Linked DNA regions of Homo sapiens: all the other regions are linked to region 3. The links come from fine-mapping of genetic effects on gene expression. A gene starts in region 3. Each other region holds a variant in brackets. All regions are shown on one strand. Distances are between the middles of the regions.

Region 1 (7,561 bases), 74 kb after region 3:
CTGGCTAAGTGGTTTTGGATAGTGGTGAAATGTTGTGAAGGAAACAAGCTGGCAGGAGAATGACTGCATAGGCTCATTCAGTGGGGTGGCCAGGGAAGCCCTGTGGAAGAAGGACATTCTGCCAGGGACTTGAATGCCACGGAGGAGCCAGGCCACGAAGATTGTGTCAGGGCATGGGTTCCTGGGACACGGGGCAGCACGCCTGAAGGCCCCGGGTTGGCATGTTTGAGAAGTGGAAGGTGGTGAGGGTTGAGAGGTCACCGGGGCTACGGTGAGTGTCTGGGGTTCCAAAGCTGCGGGATGCCATGATCAGTCACTTGTTTTTATTTATTTGTTTGTTTGTTTTCTTTTTCTTTTTGAAACGGAGTTTCGCTCTTGTTGCCCAGGCTGGAGTGCAACAGTGCGATCTCAGCTTCCTGTAACCTCCACCTCCCTAGTTCAAGCGATTCTCCTGCCTCAGCCTTCCGAGTAGCTGGGATTACAGGCACCCGCCACCACATCCGGCTGATTTTTGTATTTTTATTAGAGACGGGGGGTTTCACCATGCTGGCCAGGCTGGTCTCTAACTCCTGACCTCAGGGGATCTGCCCGCCCCAGCCTCCCAAAGTGCTGGGATTACAGTGCCCTACTGAGCTGGGGTTTCTGCCTGGGGCATTTGGTGATGGTGGCGTCCCCATGATCATGAGGAACTGGGATTCGTTGAGATTTGGGGAGGCAGTTCTGGCATTCCAGGTCACATTGATCTCAGCAGGTGAGTGCAAGGTGGATGCCAGGAGACCGTGAGCCGTTGCTGGTGGGCAGGGGTCCGGGCTCTGGAGGCTGCAGGTGCCAGCAGGTCTCACGTCCCCTCCTTTCCCACCTCCCAACCACAGTGATCAACAAATACAAGCGCAGACGATTTCAGAAAACCAAGAACCTGCTGACAGGAGAGACAGAAGCGGACCCAGAAATGATCAAGGTAAATGGGCAGGGTTGTCAGGGCCTATAGGGACCAAGCCAGGCCATTCACAGCTCATCCCAGACCACTGGGGCTGTCATCTGTCACCACCACTGAACCACCATGCCGGCTCGGTCATGCCACCTCCCCTCCCTGAGCACTGGGCTCCTCCTCTGGGAAATGGGGTCAGGAGGCAGCTGTCTCTCAGGGAGTGAGGAGGATCCCAGACAAGGTTACCTGAGCCTCTTGCCAGCCTGGGAGGGGTCTACATCACAGTCCCATTGTCACATGAGGACACTTGCTCAGTCTCAGCCGGAAGTGGCAGGCCAGGGACTCTCACCCACACAGCCAGGCCCCAGAGCCCAAGCTCAGCCTGGCTCCAAGCACACACACGAGAATATGGCTTTAGTAGGAACTGCAGGATTCATAGTTGCTGTCACTCCCAGTGGGCTGGGGAGCCGGGCAGTTAATCTGTGGTTAACCTGCAGTGGGCACTAAGAGACTTCCTCTCTCTGCGGGTGGTCCTGTGTTGGGGGGGTGGTCCCTGCTCATGGAGCTGAGGCCACCGTGCAAGAGTGTGTGGAGCCTGCTGTCATGAGGCTGGGCTTCGCAGCCTGGCCTAGGATGCCAGCCCTGCCTCTACCTCTACCTCGGTTTTCTACATGTGGGGTGGGAGGATCCTGTCGGTGGCCGGAAGGGTCCTGGGTGGCGGAATCTCTAAGCCTAGGGAGGAGAGCCTTCTGCCAGCAGTTGCTGTGGTGGCTGATATTCTGCTGCCAGGGTTGTCAGGGGAGATGGCTCATGCCTGTTTTCCCAGCATTTTGGGAGGCCGAAGCAGAAGGATCACTTGAGCCCGGAAGTTCAAGATCAGCCCAGGCAGCATAGTGAGACCCCATCTCTTCCAAAAAAGAGAAAAAAGAAAGAAAGAAAAGAAGCTGTCCATGGTGGCTCACGCCTCTAATCCCAGCACTTTGGGAGGCCGAGGTGGGAGGATCGTGCTTGAGCCCAGAATTCGAGACCAGCTTGGGCAGCATAGTGAGACCCCATCTCAGAAAAAAAAGAAAGCAAAGATTAAGATTTTCTCGGGAACCCTGGGGAGGAAGTGTACAGAGAGTGATAGTCCCCGAGCACTTCCACCTGCCTCTGAGGTCCTTCCCCCCATGTTGCCTCAGAGGGCTGAGGACTATGGGCCTGTGGAGGTGATCTCCCATTGGCACCCCAACATCACCATCAACATCGTGGACGACCACACGCCGTGGGTGAAGGGCAGTGTGCCCCCTCCCCTGGATCAATGTAAGCTCCCCAGCCCTGCCAGCTGCCTGCAGAGCCTTTGAGAGGGTGCTCGGGGTCCATCTCCTTGTCTTCTCCTGGCCCTGTCCCCCTGAGAGAGCTTTCCAGGGCTCCACCCTCCCAAGCTCCCACCCTGTCCTATCCCCTTCCCATGTCCTCTCCCTCTCCCACACCACCACCCCTGGGGACCCCAGGACTGACTTCTACACGCCAGCATCGGTCCGCAATCAAGTGCCATCCAGCCCACAAACTGTTTTCAAAAAATGTCTTATCACTTGCCAGCTTTTGAAATTGAGGCAGTATCACTTAAAAGCCACAATTTCTGGCTTATTTTATAAAACTGGGTTACATGGTCACCCACAGGGCAGCCGTGGGCTGGAGCTGAGCCACAGCTGCCCCCTTCAGTGGGGACCTGCCTGCCCTTTGCCTCAGTCCCCTCTGCTGAGGTCAAGGCACCCTTTAGCTCCTCATGGTGTGGCCTAGAAATGTCCCCTGTCCTCCAGTCTCTGTAGAGGGGCCCTGTTGGGTCTCTCCAGACATCTGAGGCCTGCGGGTACCCTGGCCTCCTGCCCGGGCCAAATGGTGCCCCTGCCCCACGTGCTGCAGATGTGAAGTTCGACGCCGTGAGCGGTGACTACTATCCCATCATCTACTTCAATGACTACTGGAACCTGCAGAAGGACTACTACCCCATCAACGAGAGCCTGGCCAGCCTGCCGCTCCGCGTCTCCTTCTGCCCACTCTCGCTTTGGCGCTGGCAGCTCTATGCTGCCCAGAGCACCAAGTCGCCCTGGAACTTCCTGGG[T/C]GATGAGTTGTACGAGCAGTCAGATGAGGAGCAGGACTCGGTGAAGGTGAGTGCGGCCGGTGTGGGCGGGACTTCCCGGTGCCTTCCTGGGCGCAAGAGGCCAAGAGGAAGTGTGCCAGGCCTGGGCTGTGGGACCTCCCGCCTGGTGCTCCTCTGCCCACAGTTTCACAACCTCCCAGGTCCCTTCTCCACAGTGAAAGGAAGTGGGCACCCAGCCCTCCAGCCCTAGATGACTGGGGGTCCTCTCCCCAGGCTGTTCTGTTGGACCCTTTGGGTCCAGACCTGTCCCTTCCTCCTTCTGTCCCAGACCTTGTGTCCCTGGCCCTGGCTCCAACTCTGTGTCTCTGCCATCTCACTGGGTCCTGAAATGTCAGCCTGTGTCTGTGGCGTGAGGCTCGGCTTTGCCTCCTGGGCTGTCGTCACTGTTGGGTCTCTGCTCCTGGCTCCCAGTGTCCCTTCACCCACTCCCCGCAGCACTCCCTTGGCCTCTGCCTCTTCCCCTAGTGCCATCTCCCCGTCTCTTCTGTCTTTGTGAGTCACCCTCCTCTCTCTCCCCATCTGCCCATCTCTGACCCAGTCTCCTCCTGGCTGGCCCACCTTCAGCCTCCCTCTACAGGCGGCCCCAGGGGCAGCCCTCGGGACAAAAGCTAGTGAAGGTGCTCCTGGGTGGGGACAGGCTGTGCTCACATGTGTCCCCTGCAGGTGGCCCTGCTGGAGACCAACCCCTACCTGCTGGCGCTCACCATCATCGTGTCTATCGTTCACAGTGTCTTCGAGTTCCTGGCCTTCAAGAATGGTAGGAACAGGACCCCAGGGCTAGTGAGAGGCTGTGCAGGGTGGGGGACAGGACCTGCCCCCTTCCTCCTCCCCTCCCTCCCCACATGTCCTCCCCCTGCCTGGGGTCTCTCAGCCCCACTCTCCAGAGGCCTAGTGAGCTGGGGAGGGGCAGTGGCCCCAAAACTCCCAACCCAGAAATTCCCACCCACCGGGTGTGGAGCTGAGGGAGGGGCTGGCCCGCTGGTGGGGCAGAGGCCAGGCCAATACTGCCAGGAAGCAGGGCTGGGGAACTCCAGAGCCAAGAGCAGGGAAGCCCCGGAGCTGCTCCCGCCACCCTGCCCGGCAGGCTGCCTGCTGCGGGAGGCCGCTTAGGGCTGAGTGGACGGGGCCTGCCCAAGTGGGAAGGAGGAGCACTGTCCCCCAAAGGTCCCTAGGTTCTAAGGCTGACCATACTGATGGCCAGCGTTTGAGGAGAAGCAGCCACATGCCAGGCACTGTCCTGGGTACCCTCCCCAGTAGCTCCTTGAGCCCTGTGGGAGCCAGAGGCTCAGGGATGTCACTTGCCCAGTCACACGGTTCCTAAGGGGCAGATGGTTCCAGCCCCAACTCTCATCTTCTAGGCCCTGCAGGCCACTTCTTCCTTGCCCAGAGCACCCCAGTCTGAAGGAGTGGCCTGCGGCCCTGTAGCTCCCGCAGGCGGCAAGAGGAATGAGTAGTAGTATTCCTGGTATTAAGATGCTATTGCCGGCCTGGTGGTGGCTCTCGCCTGTAATCCCAGCACTTTGGGAGGCCAAGGTGGGAGGATCACCTAAGCCCCGGAGTTTGAGACCAGCCTGGGCAACAAAGCGAGATTCGTTTCTACACAATTTTTTTTAAGAATTAGCTGGGCATGGCAGCGTGTGCCTATGGTCTCAGCTACTCGGGAGGCTTGGGCCTGAAAGGTCAAGGCTGCCGTGAGCCATGATCACACCACTGAACTCCATCCTAGGCAACAGAGTGACACCCTGTTCCAAAAAAAAGGACGCTCTTGCCATTATTGAGAACTACCATCTGGAAGAATGCAGTGTCATACGGGCACAGGAGCTGGTGCCGACCCCAGCCAGCCATCTACCAGCTGTCGCTGGGAGACGGGACCCTTCTGCCTAGGAGCTGGCTTGGCTGGGGTCCAGTGAGAAATGAGGCACAAGAAGGCTGTCCTCCCCAGTGTCATGCAGCAGGGGGCGCAGGCCTCACTTGGCACCAGTGCTGTGTGGCCTCCCTGGTCTAAGGAGAGGCTTGGGCCCAACTGCTCCCACGAGAACCCACCAGAACCCTGTCTCCAGACCCATTCTTCTCAGTTGGGACAGGGGTCATTCTGATGGGCAGGGGTGGGTGGGGTGAGGCTATGGAGTGTGCCAGAGCTCTGGGATGTGGGGGAGCTCTGGGATGTGGGGGAGCTCTGGGATGGGGTAGGGTGCACATGGACCAGAATTCACAGCCCTCACTCCCTGAGTGCAGAGCTGGCCCTGACTCTGCAGGACTGCAGACCTGGCTCCACCACTGTGCTACAGACGTGGTGGCTCAGCCTCCTGTGGCTGCGGTTAGATGCTCAGCCGGGCGGGGTCAAGAGAGGGGTGTCCGTGGTGAGACCAGGGCTCAGAGAGGAGCATGCTGACATGGATCCTTGGCAGCATCTAGGCGGAGCACTGGAAGGAGCTCCAGACTGGAGCCCAGGGCCCTTTTCAGTTTCCTGAGCATGGCTGTGAGCCAGTTCCTTCCCGGTGTCAGGGCAGGGGCCTGGAGGAGGTGGTCTTGAAGTGCATGCCACAGATCTTCCTTCCCAGGGAGGGCGAGCTGGCACCATGGTGTGGCACAGACCCCGCGTCCCTTCAGATTCTGCCATGCCAGGCTGTTTGGCCTCAGGGAAGCAGCTTCCCTGACCAGTCCTTAGCACCTGGCACGTGGTGAGCCCTGTCCATGGCACCAGTCACCGTCACCATCAGTCAAGGGACTGCACCTTGGGGTGCTGGGTGCTGACGTCCTATGGGAGGGCTCCAGGGGTGCCGCCTGTCTGGTGCTCTGGGGGTCACCCAATGAATATGAGAGCCTTCCTGGGAGAGAGGGGTCTCGTTCAGCACCCCTCCTGAGGACCCAGCCCCACCCCAGGGTGTGAGGATGCAGGCCAAGGGGGCCTGAGGGAGCTGCAGTAGGGTCTCAGCACCTCCTCAGCCTCCTGGTTCCCCCCTACCCCCTGCGCACAGATATCCAGTTCTGGAACAGCCGGCAGTCCCTGGAGGGCCTGTCCGTGCGCTCCGTCTTCTTCGGCGTTTTCCAGTCATTCGTGGTCCTCCTCTACATCCTGGACAACGAGACCAACTTCGTGGTCCAGGTCAGCGTCTTCATTGGGGTCCTCATCGACCTCTGGAAGATCACCAAGGTCATGGACGTCCGGGTAAGGCTGGGGCGCCATGCTGTCTCGGGAGCTGCAGGGGTTGGGAGGGGGTAGTGTGGCCCAGCTGGACCCTGGAGCTGGCCCCCGGGGGATTCCCAGCAAGTGCCTCACTCCCAGGACTGAGGGGATTTTCTCACCAGGGGATTTTTTGGGTCACACATGGGGCAGGGGAACTGGGAACGGTGGGGAAGGGCAGGGGCTGGTTCTGGCTTGTGGGGTGGGAGCCAGCGTAGCAACTGACCATGGCACCCACCTCATCCACAGCTGGACCGAGAGCACAGGGTGGCAGGAATCTTCCCCCGCCTATCCTTCAAGGACAAGTCCACGTATATCGAGTCCTCGACCAAAGTGTATGATGATGTGAGTGTCCTGCACAGTGGGCCCCTGGGGGTGGTCTCCAGGTACCACGTATCCCTGAGGCACCCGGGGCCGGCCATCTGTCTGCCGGACCCATGCTTTACAGCCTGTGCCACATCCTCTGTGTCCCCCATCTGCCATAACTGCTTCCCTGGGCGAGTCCGGAGTCCCCAGGGCTACCTGGAAATTCCCCCTGCCCGGCCTGCCAGACCAGGTGTGGTGGGTGAGGGCGGGGAGCAGGGCTGCCAGGCAGGGCTGAGGAGCTGGCTGACAGCCCCACCCTGTGGCCCCACAGATGGCATTCCGGTACCTGTCCTGGATCCTCTTCCCGCTCCTGGGCTGCTATGCCGTCTACAGTCTTCTGTACCTGGAGCACAAGGGCTGGTACTCCTGGGTGCTCAGCATGCTCTACGGCTTCCTGCTGACCTTCGGTGAGCGGTCCGGCCGCCCCAGGAGAGAGCAGGCCCCATGCTGCGCAGGGCTCACAGCCCCAGTGTAGGAGACAGACCCATCCCCAGACAGGGACAACCTAGGGTGGGCAGAGCTGGGATATAGGGAGGCCCGAGGGCACACATGGCCCCATCTGGGGTCAGAGAGGACTTCAGGGAGGACATGAACAGTACGCTTCAGTCCTCATTCTCAGGGGGCCTTTGTGTCTTGGGAACAAGTAAACAAGTAGGGCCAGGTGCAGTGGCTCACACCTGTTATCCCAATGCTTTGGGAGGCTGAGGCAGGAGGATCACTTGAGCCCAGGAATTCGTGACCAGCCTGGGCAACTTGGCAAGACCCGATCTCTACAAAAAAACACAGAAATTATTGGGGAGTGGTGGTGCGTGCCTGTAGTCCCAGCTACCTGGGAGGCTGAGGTGGGAGGATCCCTTGAGTCCAGGAGGTTGAAGCTGCAGTGAGCCATGATTACGCCACTGCACTCCAGCCTGGGTGACAGAGTGAGACCCTGTCTCAA
Region 2 (7,561 bases), 24 kb after region 3:
TGGGGTTACAGGCATGAGCCACCGTGCCCAGCCTCAAGTCAGATTATGCTCTTCCTCTGCTCAGAACTCTCCTGATTCTCTCAGAGCAAACCCAGAAGAACTTACCAAAGGCCTACAAACAGGACACTACCCGGTTCACGATCGCCTCATCCCTCTCTCTCCATCACTCACAAGCAACTCCTTGCTATTCCTCCAATGTACTGGGCAGGTTCCCACCTCAGGGCCCTTGCAGTTACTGTTCCTCTTGCCTGGAATGTTCTTCCCCAGGGGTCCAGATATCTGCCTGGCTCCCTCCTCACTTCCTCCAGTTCTCTTCCAAAATCATCCCCTGCCAGACATAGTGGCACACTCCTGTAATCCTAACCTTTGAGAGGCCAAGATGGGAGGATTGCTTCAGCTCAGAGGTTCAAGACCAGCCTGGGCAACATAGCAAGACCCCATCCCTCCTAAAAAAAATTAGCTGGGCATGGTGGTGCACACTTGTGGTTCCAGCCACTTGGGAGGCTGAGGTAGGAGGATGGCTTTGAATCAGGGAGGTTGAGGCTGCAGTGAGCCATGTTCCAAATTAGATAGTGGTGATTGTGCAACCTTGCCAATATAGGAAAAACCATTGAACTGTACACTTTAAAAGGGTAAATTTAGCAGGACGCGGTGGCTCACGCCTGTAATCCCAGCACTTTGGGAGTCCGAGGCGGGCAGATCACTTGAGCTCAAGAGTTCGAAACCAACCTGACCAACATGGTGAAACTCCATCTTTACGAAAAATTAAAAAATTAGCCAGGCGTGGTGGCAAGTGCCTGTAGTCTCAGCTACTTGGGACGCTGAGGCGGGAGAATTTCTTGAACCTGCGGGGCAGAGGCTACAGTGAGCTGAGATTGCCCCACTGCACTCCAGCCTGGGCAACAGAGTGAGACTCCATCTCAAAAAAAAAAAAAAAAAAAAAGAAAAAGAAAAAAGGGTAAATTTTATGGAATGTGAATTATAACTCAATTTTTCAACATGCATTAGGAGGGACATTTCAAACCCTTTTTTACCCCAGCCTTCCCTGCAATCACCCAGAGTATCCAGCCAGGAGGGGAGTGGCTAGAGACACCAGAAGATTAGCAGGGAGGAGGGTGCAGGGTTTCGGGGGATGAGGGGATGGGATTCAGACCAGGGTAAGGATCCAGGGGTAGAGAGAAAGATTTGAGAGTGGTTTTGGGGCTTGGTGACTTAGAGAACAGAGTTGCAGGCTCTGTTTTTGGGCCCGCCCTGCCCCCTTCCGACCTCTTAGTTCCTATCCTCCAGCAGCTGTTTGTGTGCTGCCTCTGAAGTCCACCCTGAATGACCTTCAGCCTGTTCCCGTCCCTGATATGGGCAAACATTGCAAGCAGCAAACAGCAAACACATAGCCCTCCCTGCGTGCTGACCTTGGAGCTGCGGCAGAGGTCAGAGACCTCTCAGGGCCCATACCACTTCCAACATCCCCTTGATCTCTTGGATTTTGGTGGAGAGGGGCAGAGGTTGTCCTGGCCTGGTTAGGTAGTGTGAGAGGGTCCCGGTTCAAAACCACCACTTGCTGGTTGAGGAGTCGTCAGTAAGTGGCTGCGCCCCCACCCTGAGGCTTGTTTCTCCATCTGTACAATGGAAATGATGAAGATGCCCACCTGATAGGGTTTTTGTGGCAAATAAGTAAGTAGTTTTTTTGTTTTTCTTTTTCTTTTTTTTTTTTTTTTTTTGAGATGGAGTCTCACTCTGTCACCAGGCTGGAGCGCAGTGGCGTGATCTCGGCTCACTGCCAACTCCACCTCCCGGGTTCAAGCGATTCTCCTGCCTCAGCCTCTGAGTAGCTAGGACTACAGGCGCCCGCCACCACACCCAGCTAATTTTTGCATTTTTAGTAGAGATGGGGTTTCACCATGTTGGCCAGGATGGTCTCAATCTCTTGACCTTGTGATCCACCTGCCTCGGCCTCCCAAAGTGCTGGGATTACAGGCATGAGCCACCACGCCCAGCTCCCCCACCTTTTTTTTTTTTTGAGATGGAAAGCTCTGTCACCCAGGCTAGAGTGCATTGAGCCATCTTGGCTCTCTGCAACTTCTGCCTCCCGGGTTCAAGCAATTCTCCTGCCTCAGGCTCCCAAGTAGCTGGGATTACAGGCGCCCACAACCATGCCTGGCTAATTTTTGTATTTTTAGTGGAGACAGAGTTTCACTATATTGGCCAGGCTGATCTCGAACTCCTGACCTCAAGTGATCTGCCTGTGTCAGCCTCCCAAAGTGCTGTGATTACAGGCATGAGCCACCATGCCCCACCGCAATTAAGTAAAGTAATCATCTAAAAGCCCTGCCATGGTTCCTGCCACACAGTGTGTGCTGGGGAAGCGCGCACGAATTAAACAGTAGCTGGCGTTGACGGGGCACCTATGCGGCATTTTCTGTGCACGATCTTTACTCTCCCTGGCAACCCTATGAGGTAGATAGTCCATGACTCCCATTCATGGATGAAGAAACAGGCCCACACAGGTAAAGCAACTTGTACCAGGTCATACCGCTAGAAAGATGTAGAGTCAGCCACGCGCGGTGGCTCATGCCTATAATCCCAGCACTTTCGGAGGCTGAGGCGGGATGATCACTTGAGGTCAGGGGTTCGTAACCAGCCTGGCCAACATGGTGAAACCCCGTCTCTACTAAAAATACAAAAATTAGCTGGGCGTGGTGGCGGACGCCTGTAATCCCAGCTACTCAGGAGGCTGAGGCAGAAGAATTGCTTGAACCCGGGAGACAGAGGTTGCAGTGAGCTGAGATCACGTCACTGCACTCCAGCCTGGGTGACTGAGCAAGACTCCATCTCAAAAAGAAAAAAAAACAGGCCAGGAGCAGTGGCTTACACCTGTAATCCCAGCACTTTGGGAGGCCAAGGCGTGTGGATTGCCTGAGGTCAGGAGTTCAAGACCAGCCTGGCCAACGTGGTGAAACCCTGTCTATACTAAAAATGCAAAAATTAGCTGGGTGTGGTGGCAGGCGCCTGTAGTCCCAGCTACTCGGGAGGCTCAGGTAGGAGAATTGCTTGAACCCAGGAGATGGAGGTTGCAGTGAGCCGAGATCGCGCCACTGCACTCCAACATGGGCAATAGAGCAAGACTCCATCTCAAAAAACAAAGAAGGGAGGGAGGGAAGGAAAGAAAGGAAAAGAAGCAACAGGTAGAGTCAGGCTCTGAACCCCACACCAATCATAACACAACACACAGTAGGTTTGTTTTTGTTTTTTATTTTGGGCTTTTGTTTGTTGTGGAGACAGCGTCACCCAGGCTGTAATGCAATGGTACAATCATAGCTCACTGTAGCCCTGAACTCCTAGACTCAAACAATCCTCCCACCTCGGCCTCCTGAGTAGCTGGGACTACAGGGGCATGCCACCACGCCTAGCTAAATTTTTTTTTTTTATTTTTAGTAGAGATGAGGTCTCCCTATGTTGCCCAGATTAGTGTCTTAACTCCTGGGCTCAGGTGATCCTGCCACCAGGGATTACAGGCACGAGCCACCATGCTGGCCCTTGTTTTTTGTTGTTTTTTTTTTTTTTTTTTGAGACGGAGTCTCGCTTTGTCGCCCAGGCTGGAGTGCAGTGGCGGGATCTCGGCTCACTGCAAGCTCCGCCTCCCGGGTTCACGCCATTCTCCTGCCTCAGCCTCCCAAGTAGCTGGGACTACAGGCGCCCGCCACTATGACCGGCTAATTTTTTTGTATTTTTAGTAGAGACGGGGTTTCACCGTTTTAGCCGGGATGGTCTCGATCTCCTGACCTCGTGATCCGCCCGCCTCGGCCTCCCAAAGTGCTGGGATTACAGGCGTGAGCCACCGCGCCCGGCCTGTTTTTTTTTTTTTTTTTGAGACTGAGTCTCGCACTGTCGCCCAGGCTGGAGTGCAGTGGCGCGATCTCGGCTCACTGCAACCTCCACCTTCCAGGTTCAAGCAATTCTCCTGCCTCAGCCTCCTGAGTAGCTGAGATTACAGGTGCCCACCAC[G/C]ATGCCCAGCTAACTTTTTTTTTTTTTTTGGTATTTTTAGTAGAGACGGGGGTTTCACCATGTTGGTCAGGCTGGTCTCGAACTCCTGACCTCGTGATCCGCCCGCCTTGGCCTCCCAAAGTGATGGGATTACAGGCGTGAGCCACCGTGCCCAGCTTTTTTTTTTTTTTTTTAAGAGACGGGGTCTTACTATGTTGCCCAGGCTGGACTCTCAAACTCCTGGGCTCAAGGAATCCTTCTACCACAGCTTTCTGAGTAGCTGGGGCTACAAGCCCCTGCCACAGTACCTGGCTGTTTTTGTTTTTTTATAATTGTGGTAAAATATAAACAACATGGCCGGGTGTGGTGGCTCACGCCTGTAATCTCAACACTCTGGGAGGTTGAGGTGGGAGGATTACTTGAACCCAGGAGTTCAAGACCAGTCTGGGCAACTTGGCAAAACTGTGTTTCTACAAAAAATAAAAATATTAGCTGGGCAGCCAGGCGCAGTGGCTCATGCCTGCAATCCCAGCACTTTGGGAGGCTGAGGTGGATGGATCACCTGAGAGGTCAGGAGTTTGAGACCACCCTGGCCAACATGGTGAAAACCTGTCTCTTTAAAAATACAAAAAAATGAGCCAGCCATGGTGGCTCACGCCTGTAATCCCAGCACTTTGAGAGGCCAAGGCAGGTGGATCACCTGAGGTCAGGAGTTCAAGACCAACCTGGCCAACATTGTGAAACCCCGTCTCTACTAAAAATACAAAAAATTAGCTGGGCATGGTGGCAGGCGCTTATAATTCCAGCTACTAAGGAGGCTGAGGCCGGAGAATCGCTTGAACCCGGGAGGCGGAGGTTGCAGTGAGTCAAGATCGCACCATTGCACTCCAGCCTGGGCAACAAGAGCGAAACTATGTCTCAAATACATACATACATACAAAAAATTAGCCGGGTGTGGTTGCCGCACACCTGTAATCCCAGCTACGCGGGAGGCTGAAGCAGGAGAATCGCTGGAACCCGGGAGGCAGAGGTTGCAGTGAGCCAAGATCACACCATTGCACTCTATCCTGGGTGACGGAGTGAGACTCTGCCTCAAAAAAAAAAAAAAAAAAAAAAAAACTTAACCATTGCAGCCATTTTTAGGTGTACAGTTCAGTGGCATTAAGTACATTCACACTGTTGTGCAACCATCCCCACTATTTGCAGGATGTCTTCGTCATCCCAAACAGAAACTCTGGGTGTTTTCAATCTGCTGATGATTGCTACAGAGGAATTCCAGGGGACATCTGTTGCGCACCTACTGTGCTCACGCTGGGGCCTCTGGGATGGACAGGATTCTGCCAAGGCAGACATCTGGGTCAAGACAGTCCTGCACAGTTGTTCAGGTTGTGGCCAAGGTTGCGTTTGCAGATTTGCCATGTAAAAATACAGGATGCTCAGTTACATTTGAATTTCAGATTAATAGCAAAAAAAACTTTTTGGTATAATTCTGAAATATTTCATGGGACATATTTATACTAAAACGTCATGCACTGTTGATTTGAAATTCAAATGTAATTGGGCCTCCTCTATTTCGTCTGGCAAGCGTAGACAAAAGAATCCAGTCCAGGCCAGGCGCAGTGGCTCAAGCCTGTAATCCCAGCACTTTGGGAGGCCGAGGCGGGCGGATCACGAGGTCAGGAGATCGAGACCATCCTGGCTAACACGGTGAAACCCCGTCTCTACTAAAAATACAAAAAATTAGCTGGGCGTGGTGGCGGGTGCCTGTAGTCCCAGCTACTCGGGAGGCTGAGGCAGGAGAATGGCGTGAACCTGGGAGGCGGAGCTTGCAGTGAGCCGAGATCGCGCCACAGCACTCCAGCCTGGGCGACAGAGCCAGACTCTGTCTCAAAAAAAAAAAAAAGAATCCAGTCCATAGTCCCCTGAGCCATGTGCCCTGGGGTGCAGCTGGGTCCTTCAGGAGAAAAATGCTCTATTTCTGGCACTGGGACCGAGCCTGATGTGGGTTTTTTGTTGGTTTTTGTTGTTGTTATTGTTTTTGAGACAAGGTCTCGCTCCACCACACCCGGCTAATTTTTGTATTTTTAGTAGAGACGGGGTTTCACTACGTTGGCCAGGCTGGTCTTGAACTCCTGACCTCAAGTGAGCCGCCTGCCTCGGCCTCCCAAAGTGCTGGGATTACAGGTGGGAGCCACCGCCCTGGCCCTGGGCCTGATGTTGATGACCTCCTACTATGTGCACCTGCAGCTCTCCTGCATAGGCCTCAGCCGTCCTGCATGAGGACACTGGGAGGCAGGTGCTCCCTATCAACCCCGTGTTACAGTTGAACAAACTGAGCCCCAGAAAAGAAAACGTATTTGCCCAGGTCACACGGTGAAGAAGTGAGGGATTCGAAGCCCAGGTCCATCTGAAGCCAGAGTCACCCAGAGGAGAAAGAGTTGGAATTGAGAACTCAAGGAATGCTTGGAAGTGATCGGGCTCGAGCCCACCTAGGAAGAAACAGAGGCTGGAGACATGAGACTGTGTTGCTATTTCCTCTCATCAACCCTTGGGCCCTATTGAGGCCCTACCACAAGCCTGGCCCTGCAGCCCAGTGACTAGGAGAAATTAGACACAAGATAATAATAACAGCAATGATCTTTTTTTTTTTTCTGAGACGGAGTCTTGCTCTTTCGCCCAGGCTGGACTGCAGTGGCGCGATCTCGGCTCAATGCAAGCTCCACCTCCCAGGTTCACGCCATTCTCCTGCCTCAGCCTCCCGAGTAGCTAGGACTACAGGCGCCTGCCACCACGCCTGGCTAATTTTTCATATTTTTAGTAGAGATGGGGTTTCACCGTGTTAGCCAAGATGGTCTCAATCTCCTGACCTCGTGATCCGCCTGCCTCGGCCTCCCAAAGTGTTGGGGTTACAGGCATGAGCCACCGCGCCTGGCCAACAGCAATGATCTTTGAGCACCTATATTGCCAGTCTCCACGGTAAGAGCTTTCTTCATTTTTTGTTTTGTTTTGTTTCAAGACAGAGTCTTGCTCTGTCACCCAGGCTGGAGTGCAGTGGTGTGATCGCGGCTCACTGCAGCCTTCACTTCCCGGGTTCAAGCCATTCTCCTGCCTCAGCCTCCCAAGTAGCTGGGATTACAGGCACGCATCACTACTTCTGGCTAATTTTTGTATTTTTAGTAGGGACAGGGTTTTTCACCATGTTGGCCAGGTTGGTCTCAAACTCCTGGCCTCATATGATCTGCCCACCTCGGCCTCCCAAAGTGCTGGGATTACAGGCGTGAGCCACTGCGCCTTTCTTTGTATTTGTTCAAGTAATATACTGAAATATGTACTGTGCCTCCCACTTTATGGAGGAGGAAACTGAGGCCAGCAAATGAGGCTGTCATGGGAGGTGGAGACAGGATTTGAACCTGCCTCAGTGCAGGAGGCTCAAGAGCCTCTGTCTTCTCTCAGGGCACTGTGTGGGAGGGTGAGAAGGAGGGAGGCCCACAGAGGCATGACCTCTGATTGCCACTGTCACCTGGGCCCTGCTCTCTGAAGTCTCTGCCAAGCGGGGAGGTGGCCGGGGGAGGGCCCTGCT
Region 3 (7,561 bases):
CTTTTTTTTTTTTTTTTTTTTTTTTTTTTTTTGAGACAGAGTCTTGCTCTGTTGCCCAGCCTGGAGTGCAGTGGTGCAATCTTGGTTCACTGCAACCTCCACTTCCCAGATTCAAGCAATTCTCCTGCCTCAGCCTCCAGAGTAGCTGGGATTACAGGCGTGTCCCACCACACCCGACTAATTTTTGTATTTTTGGTAGAGACAAGGCTTCGGCATTGTTGGCCAGGCAGGTCTCGAACTCCTGACCTCAAGTAATCTGCCTGCCTCACCCTCCCAAAGTGCTGGGATTACAGGCATGAGCCACCTCACCCGGACCATCCCTCATTCTCCATCCTTTCCTCCAGTTGTGATGTCTACCCCTCATGTTTCCCAACAAGCCTACTGGGTGCTGAATCCAGGCTGGGAAGAGAAGGGAGCGGCTCTTCTGTCGGAGTCTGCACCAGGCCCATGCTGAGACGAGAGCTGGCGCTCAGAGAGGGGAAGCTTGGATGGAAGCCCAGGAGCCGCCGGCACTCTCTTCTCCTCCCACCCCCTCAGTTCTCAGAGACGGGGAGGAGGGTTCCCACCAACGGGGGACAGGCTGAGACTTGAGCTTGTATCTCCTGGGCCAGCTGCAACATCTGCTTGTCCCTCTGCCCATCTTGGCTCCTGCACACCCTGAACTTGGTGCTTTCCCTGGCACTGCTCTGATCACCCACGTGGAGGCAGCACCCCTCCCCTGGAGATGACTCACCAGGGCTGAGTGAGGAGGGGAAGGGTCAGTGTGCTCACAGGCAGGGGGCCTGGTCTGCTGGGCCTGCTGCTGATTCACCGTATGTCCAGGAGCTGGAGCAGCACCCTCTCAGAGCCTCAGTTTCCCCAGATGTCAATGAGAGAATCAGCATCAGCCACATCTCCCACCTGAAGAATCGAACCTTGAGTTCTCACCTTTAAGAATTTTTTTTTTTTTTTGAGACAGTGCCTTGCTCAGTCGACCACGCTGGAGTGCAGTAGCACGATCATCAATCACTGCAGCCTCCAACTCAAGCAACCCTCCTGCCTCAACCTCCTGAGTAGCTGGGGCCACAGGCACCCACCACCATGCCTGGCTAATTCTTTCTTTTTTGAGATGGAGTCTCACTCTGTCGCCCAGGCTGGAGTGCAGTGGCACCATCTTGGCTCACCGCAACCTCTGCCCCCCGGGTTCAAGCAATTCTCCTGCCTCAGCCTCCTGAGTAGCTAGAATTACAGGCGCACACCACCACACCAGGCTAATTTTTGTATTTTTAGTAGAAACGAGGTTTCACCACGGTGGTCAGGTTGGTCTCAAACTCCTGACATCAGGTGATCCACCCGCCTCGGCCTCCCAAAGCACTGGGATTACAGGAGTGAGCCACCATGCCTGGCCATATTTTAAACTTTTTTGTAGAGATGGGGTCTTACTATGTTGCCCAGGCTGATCTCAAACTCTTGGGCTCAAGCAGATCCTCCTGCCAAAGCTTCCCAAAGTAGTTGGATTACAGGTGTGAGCCACCACGCCCCACCAACCTATGAAGATGTCTAAGCAGACAGGGTGCCCTATCTCACCACATCCCCAGTCAGATCCAGAGGTGGGACAAGGATGGGAAGGAGGTTCCAGAACAAAGGCTGGCAGGGAGTCGTATGGGACAGGAGCTGACCCAGCAACCATCCACAGAGACATCCTGGAGCCTGGGAAGGAGAAGGACAAAGAGCCCCCTTTTTTAAATTTTTTTTATGTTTTTGAGACGGAGTCTCACTCTGTCACCCAAGCTGGAGTGCAGTGGCACAATCTTGGCTCACTGCAACCTCCACCTCATGGGTTCAAACGACTCTCCTGCCTCAGCCTCCTGAGTAGCTGGGACCACAGGTGCACACCACCATGCCTGGATAATTTTTGAATTTTTGGTAGAGACGGAGTTTCACCATGTTGGCCAGGCAGGTCTCGAACTCCTGACCTCAAGTGCTCCGCCCACCTTGGCCTCCCAAAGTTCTGGGAATACAGGCGTGAGCCACTGCAACCAGCCAGTAGCCCCCATCTTTGCCCCTCGCTGAGCCCTACTGGATGTTCTTGGTTATGCGACAGTTTCCCCATCTATTAAAGAGAAACCCCTATAGCAGAGGGGAGGATGAGGTTGGAAAAGCAGGAGCATTGTTATGCTATTCTTGTGGGGTCTGGGAAGCAGACATCTGGGTGGATGTTTGGGGGGTGCTGGGCTTAGTTGGGGAAGTAGGGGGGCCCCTGGGGCTGACAGGGACTGGAAGCTCTGAGCTGGCCAGAGGGATGTTGCAATCCTGCCAGGGTCTTGTCTATGCTGTCCTTTTCACAACCATCCCCCTACTGCCAGGCTGACACGTGGTTGCGGGGGCACAAGGCCAGCCAACCTAGAGTCTGAGGCTAGGCGGAGGACACCCTCCCCACCAGCTGCCAGGGTCACTGGCGGTCAAAGGCAGCTGGTGGGGAAGGCATTGGACTCCAGCCTTGGGGGACGGATGTAGTGATGGTGGGAAGCAGGCTTGGTGCCAGGAGGGGCGTCAGAGGGTGAATAAAAGCAGATAGAGTGTTTGGGGGAGGTAGCCAGCCAAAGGGGGTGAGGCCCGGTGGAAGGGAAGAAGGGACATACACGCAGAGCTTTGCAGCTGAGGGTTTTAATTTTTTGAGATGGGGTCTCTGTCCCACCAGGCTGGAGTGCAGTGGCACAATCACAGCTCACTGCAGCCTCGAACTCCTGGGCTCAAGCAATCTTCCTACCTCAGCCTCTTGAGTAGCTGGGACTACAGGCATGCGCCACCACGCTCGGCTAATTTTTGAACTTTTTTGTAGAGATGAGGTCTCCCTATATTGCCCAGGCTGGTCTCGAACTCCCAGGCTCAAGTGATCCTCCCTCTTCAGCTTCCCAAAGTGCTGGGATTACAGGCATGAGCCACCATGCCTGGCTAATGCAGGTGAGGTTTTTGCAGTGTCATCCAGCTAAGGCGACCCGTTCCCCTCCCAAAAAAGGGAGACTGAGAACCATGAAGTTAAGAGCCCAGAGAATATCACGGTGGTCTGGGGTGCTTCAAGGGCTGGTCTGGAATAAATTGGAGGTGGCACGCAGGGTAGGAGCGCCGGGCCAACTGGGAGACCCAGCAACATAAAGGAAAAGTTGTTGGGGCTGAGGAGGCTTGCTGAGAGAGGGGAAGTGAGGGAAAGAGGTGATCTAGGGACACGGTGTGAATGAGGGGGGGATGAGATCACAGGGTTATTACTGGGAGACCCCTGAGGGAAGATGGCCACAGGGACAGGACAAGGCTGTCTTCTTAAGGGAGGAGACCACCCCTCATATTGTCTTATGCCCAATTTCTGCCTCCAAAGAAAGAAAAAGTAAAAACTAAAAGGCAGAAATGAAATCCACAAGCAGACAGCCCGCGCCACACCCTGGGCCTGGTGGTTAAAGATTGACCCCTGACCTAATCCGTTAGGTTATCTATAGATTACAGACATTGTATAGAAAAGCACTGTGAAAATCCCTATTCTGTTTTGTTCCGATCTAATTACCGGTGCATGCAGCCCCCAGTCACGCATCCCCTGCTTGTTCAATCGATCACGACCCTCTCACGTGCACCCACTTAGAGTTGTGAGCCCTTAAAAGGAACAGGGATTGCTCACTCGGGGAGCTCGGCTCTTGAGACAGGAATCTTGCCCATTCCCCGAACGAATAAACCCCTTCCTTAACTCAGCGTCTGAGGAATTTTGTCTGCGGCTCCTCCTGCTACATTCTGAGTGGGGAAAGGGACTAAGGTGGTCTGAGGACCCCACAGAGTCAGGAAGATTGAGAGGTGAGAGTGCTGAACGGGGAGGGGCTTTGGGGCTAAGGGAAGTGCCCGGGACCCCACCTGACCCCAACGCTCACGGGACAGGGGCAGAGGAGAAAAACGTGGGTGGACAGAGGGAGGCAGGCGGTCAGGGGAAGGCTCAGGAGGAGGGAGATCAACATCAACCTGCCCCGCCCCCTCCCCAGCCTGATAAAGGTCCTGCGGGCAGGACAGGACCTCCCAACCAAGCCCTCCAGCAAGGATTCAGGTTGGTGCTGAGTGCCTGGGAGGGACACCCGCCTACACTCTGCAAGAAACTCAAAAAGGGAGATGAGGGGATCGTGGGAGGGAGGTAGGGAGGGAGGAGGGTGCCACTGATCCCCTGAACCCCTGCCTCTGCCTCCAGAGTGCCCCTCCGGCCTCGCCATGAGGCTCTTCCTGTCGCTCCCGGTCCTGGTGGTGGTTCTGTCGATCGTCTTGGAAGGTAAAAGTGGGATGGGAGAATTGCGGAGTTGGAGATTTGGAAGAGTGAAGGTGGCTACAGGCCTGGGGTCCCGGCTTAGAGGACCTCTGAGAGCTCCGGGGCCCCTTCTGGGTCGTGGTTGCCTCATCGTGGTCGGGTGGGTCTCCAGGTTCTCCCAGGCTCAGTCCCGCAGGCGCCAAATCTGCGCAGGAGAGCACTAGCAACCGATGACGTATTGAGGCCCACACCTCTGGGATTGGCTGTCCTGCTTCGACAGCCTTGAAAGTGGGTAAGCTGGGTGGGGGGCTCTGGGAGAGGTCAGTGCTGAGTAAGGCAATTCCCAGCAGCTTGAGCCCCACCAGGTCACTCCAGTATTCCTCCCCATTCTTTTTTTTTTTTTTTTTTTTTCTCTTGAGACGGAGTCTCGCTCTGTCGCCGAGGCTGGAGTGCAGTGGCGCGATCTCGGCTCACTGCAAGCTCCGCCTCCCTGGTTCACGCCATTCTCCTGCCTCAGCAGGACTACAGGCGCCCGCCACCGCGCCCGGCTAATTTTTTGTATTTTCAGTAGAGACAGGGTTTCACCGTGGTCTCGATCTCCTGACTTTGTGATCCGCCTGCCTCGACCTCCCAAAGTGCTGGGATTACAGGCGTGAGCCACCGCGTCCGGCCATTCCTCCCCATTCTAACCACATGATCCCCAAGGATCTCTATCCATCCCGGTATCCCAACCTAAGGGGGTTCCAATAACAAATTTTTGGCCGGGCAGGGTGGCTCATGCCTGTAATCCCAGCACTTTGGGAGGCCGAGGCGGGCAGATCACTTGAGGTCAGGAGTTCGAAACCAGCCTGGCCAACATGGTGAAACTTCGTCTCTACTAAAAATACAAAAAAATTAGCCAGGTGTGGAGGCACGCGCCTGTAGGCCCAGCTACTCGGGAGGCTGAGGCAGGAGAATCACTTGAACCCGGGAGGCGGAGGTTGCAGTGAGCCGAGATCATACCACTGCACTCCAGCCTGGCTGACACAGCAAGACTCCGTCTCAAAACAAAACAAAACAAAAATAGCTGGGTGTGGTGGTGCACACCTGTAATCCCAGCTACTTGGGAGGCTGAGGCAGGAGAACTGCTTGAACCCGGGAGGTGGTGGTTGCAGTAGGCCGAGATCATGCCACTGCACTCCAGCTTGGGCTACAGAGCAAGACTCCATCTCCAAAAAAAAAAAAAAAAAAACAAATTTTGAACCCCTGCCCATCTTCCTGGCAGGCCCAGCCCCAGCCCAGGGGACCCCAGACGTCTCCAGTGCCTTGGATAAGCTGAAGGAGTTTGGAAACACACTGGAGGACAAGGCTCGGGAACTCATCAGCCGCATCAAACAGAGTGAACTTTCTGCCAAGATGCGGTTAGAACCCTTCCCAGGGCACGGGAGAGCTGGGGTGTGTTTTTGGGTGGAGCCCTGGCAGATGGTCCAAGATGAACAGATTGAAAAAAAAACAAGTCCTGGAGAGGCTGACAACATCCCTCTGGTCACACAGCTAGATCTCAAGGTGCTCAGACTTCAAGGACAGTTTCCCTGACTCCCATCCAGGCCATATTTTAAAAGATGGTCTTGGGCTGGGCACGGTGGCTCATGCTTGCAATCCCAGCACTTAGGGAGGCCGAGGTGGGCTGATTGCCTGAGGTCAGGAGTTCGAGACCAGTCTGACCAACATGGTGAAACCTTGTCTCTACTAAAAATACAAAAAAATTAGGCAGGCATGGTGGCGTGCACCTGTAATCCCAGCTAGTCGGGAGGCTGAGGCAGGGGAATTGCTTGAACCAGGAAGGTGGGAGTTACAGTGAGCCAACATTGTGCCAGCCTGGGTGACAGAAGGAGACTCTGTCTCAAAAAAAAAAAAAAAAAAAAAAAAAACAAGATGGTCTTGCCCAGGTATGGTGGCTCACACCTGTAATTCCAGCACTATGGGAGGCTGAGATGGGAGGATTGCTTGAGCCCAGGAGTTCGAGACCAGCCTGACCAACATGGCGAGATCCTGTCTCCATTTAAAAAAAAAAAAAAAAAGATGGTTTTGTGAGGTAATGAAAATGAAGGCCCCAAGCTTGGCCAGACCTGGGTCCCCAGGCTGGAGTAGCACCCCTTCCTGTGTGATCTTGACAGAGGGGCATTACTGTGAGCCTCAGTTTCCTCTCCTATAAACTGGTGGTTCTACAGGGAAGTAAAGGAGCAGGCCTACAGGGTGTCTGGTACATGTAGATGCTCAGTATATCATGAAACCCACCCTTGCCCCCTTTGGCAAGTTAGAGAGTCATTCGTTCTTTCAAAAATATTTACTGAGCATCTGCTAAGTGCTGGAAACTGTTTCAATGTGGGGAATAAAACAGTGAAGAACGTGCCGAGCACGGTGGCTCACACCTGTAACCCCACCACTTTGGAAGGCCGAGGTGGGTGGATCACTTGAGGTCAGGAGTGCGAGAACCCCGTCCCTAATAGAAATGCAAAAAAAATTAGCTGGGCATGGTGGCCCATGCCTGTAGTCCCAGCTCCTTGGGAGGCTGAGGCGAGAGGATTGCTTGAGCCCAGGAGATCTAGGCTGCAGTGCGCCATGTTTGTGCCACTGCATTCCAGCCTGGGTAACAGAATGAGACCCTGTCTCAACAAAAAAAGAAAAGAAAAGAGAAGAAAAGAGAAAAGAAAGACAGGGAGGGAGGGAGGAAGGAAGGGAGGGAGGGAGGGAAAATAGAGCCAGGCATAAACTTAGAAAGATCGTTTGGAGGCCAGGCACAATGGCTCACACCTGTAATCCCAGCACTTTGGGAGGCCAAGGCAAGCAGATCACCTGAGGTCAGGAGTTCGAGACCAGCCTAACATGGAGAAACCCTGTCTCTACTAAAAATACAAAATTAGCCGGGCGTGGTGGTGCATTCCTGTAGTCCTAGCTACTCGGGAGCCTGAGGCAGGAGAATCACTTGAACCCGGGAGGCGGAGGTTGCAGTGAGCCGAGATCATGCCACTGCACTCCAGCCTGGGCGACAAGGCGAGACTCCATGCCAAAAAAGAAAAAAAACTCCTGGCGCGGTGGCTCACGCCAGTAATCCCAGCACTGTGGGAGGCTGAGCAGGCGGATCACGAGGTCAGGAGTTCGAGACTAGCCTGCTCAACATAATGAAACCCTCTCTGTACTAAAAATACAAAAATTAGCTGGGTGTGGTGGCAGGCACCTGTAGTCCCAGCTACTCGGGAGGCTGAGGCAGGAGAATGGCTTGAACCTGGGAGGCAGAGGTTGCAGTGAGCCGAGACAGTGCCATTGCAC

Direction of the effects. Positions count from the first base shown, and alleles are read on the strand shown. Sizes are in standard deviations (SD) of each study's normalised expression. Not every link is listed here.
For the expression in monocytes of the gene that starts at base 3,935 in region 3, allele G in region 2 goes with a lower level than allele C (large effect, 0.84 SD a copy in Quach 2016).

What was found. PIP is the estimated chance that this variant, and not a neighbour inherited with it, causes the effect. A credible set is the group of variants that fine-mapping cannot tell apart.
Region 1: its variant is the best candidate, but not a certain one, in a credible set for the expression of APOC1 in lung (TOPMed, PIP 0.68).
Region 2: its variant is the best candidate, but not a certain one, in a credible set for the expression of APOC1 in monocytes (Quach 2016, PIP 0.66).

The regions. Positions count from the first base shown.
Region 1 is chr19:44,984,346-44,991,906 of GRCh38, forward strand. CLPTM1 (CLPTM1 regulator of GABA type A receptor forward trafficking) reads left to right here. Exons shown (of 14, transcript NM_001294.4): 6 at 873-958; 7 at 2,110-2,230; 8 at 2,834-3,078; 9 at 3,735-3,828; 10 at 6,050-6,240; 11 at 6,505-6,600; 12 at 6,893-7,028. Among named protein-coding and RNA genes, the nearest start is that of RELB, 13 kb to the right of the region's middle. RefSeq lists enhancers at 4,756-4,915, 5,396-5,445. The variant T/C (reference allele first, on the strand shown) is at 3,033.
Region 2 is chr19:44,934,648-44,942,208 of GRCh38, forward strand. No RefSeq gene overlaps it. Among named protein-coding and RNA genes, the nearest start is that of APOC4, 3.8 kb to the right of the region's middle. The variant G/C (reference allele first, on the strand shown) is at 4,003.
Region 3 is chr19:44,910,674-44,918,234 of GRCh38, forward strand. It overlaps APOC1 (apolipoprotein C1), which reads left to right and starts at 3,935. Exons shown (of 4, transcript NM_001645.5): 1 at 3,935-4,060; 2 at 4,199-4,276; 3 at 5,517-5,652. The coding sequence starts at 4,219. RefSeq lists enhancers at 1,971-2,730, 3,489-4,248, 4,249-5,006 and a promoter at 2,948-4,074.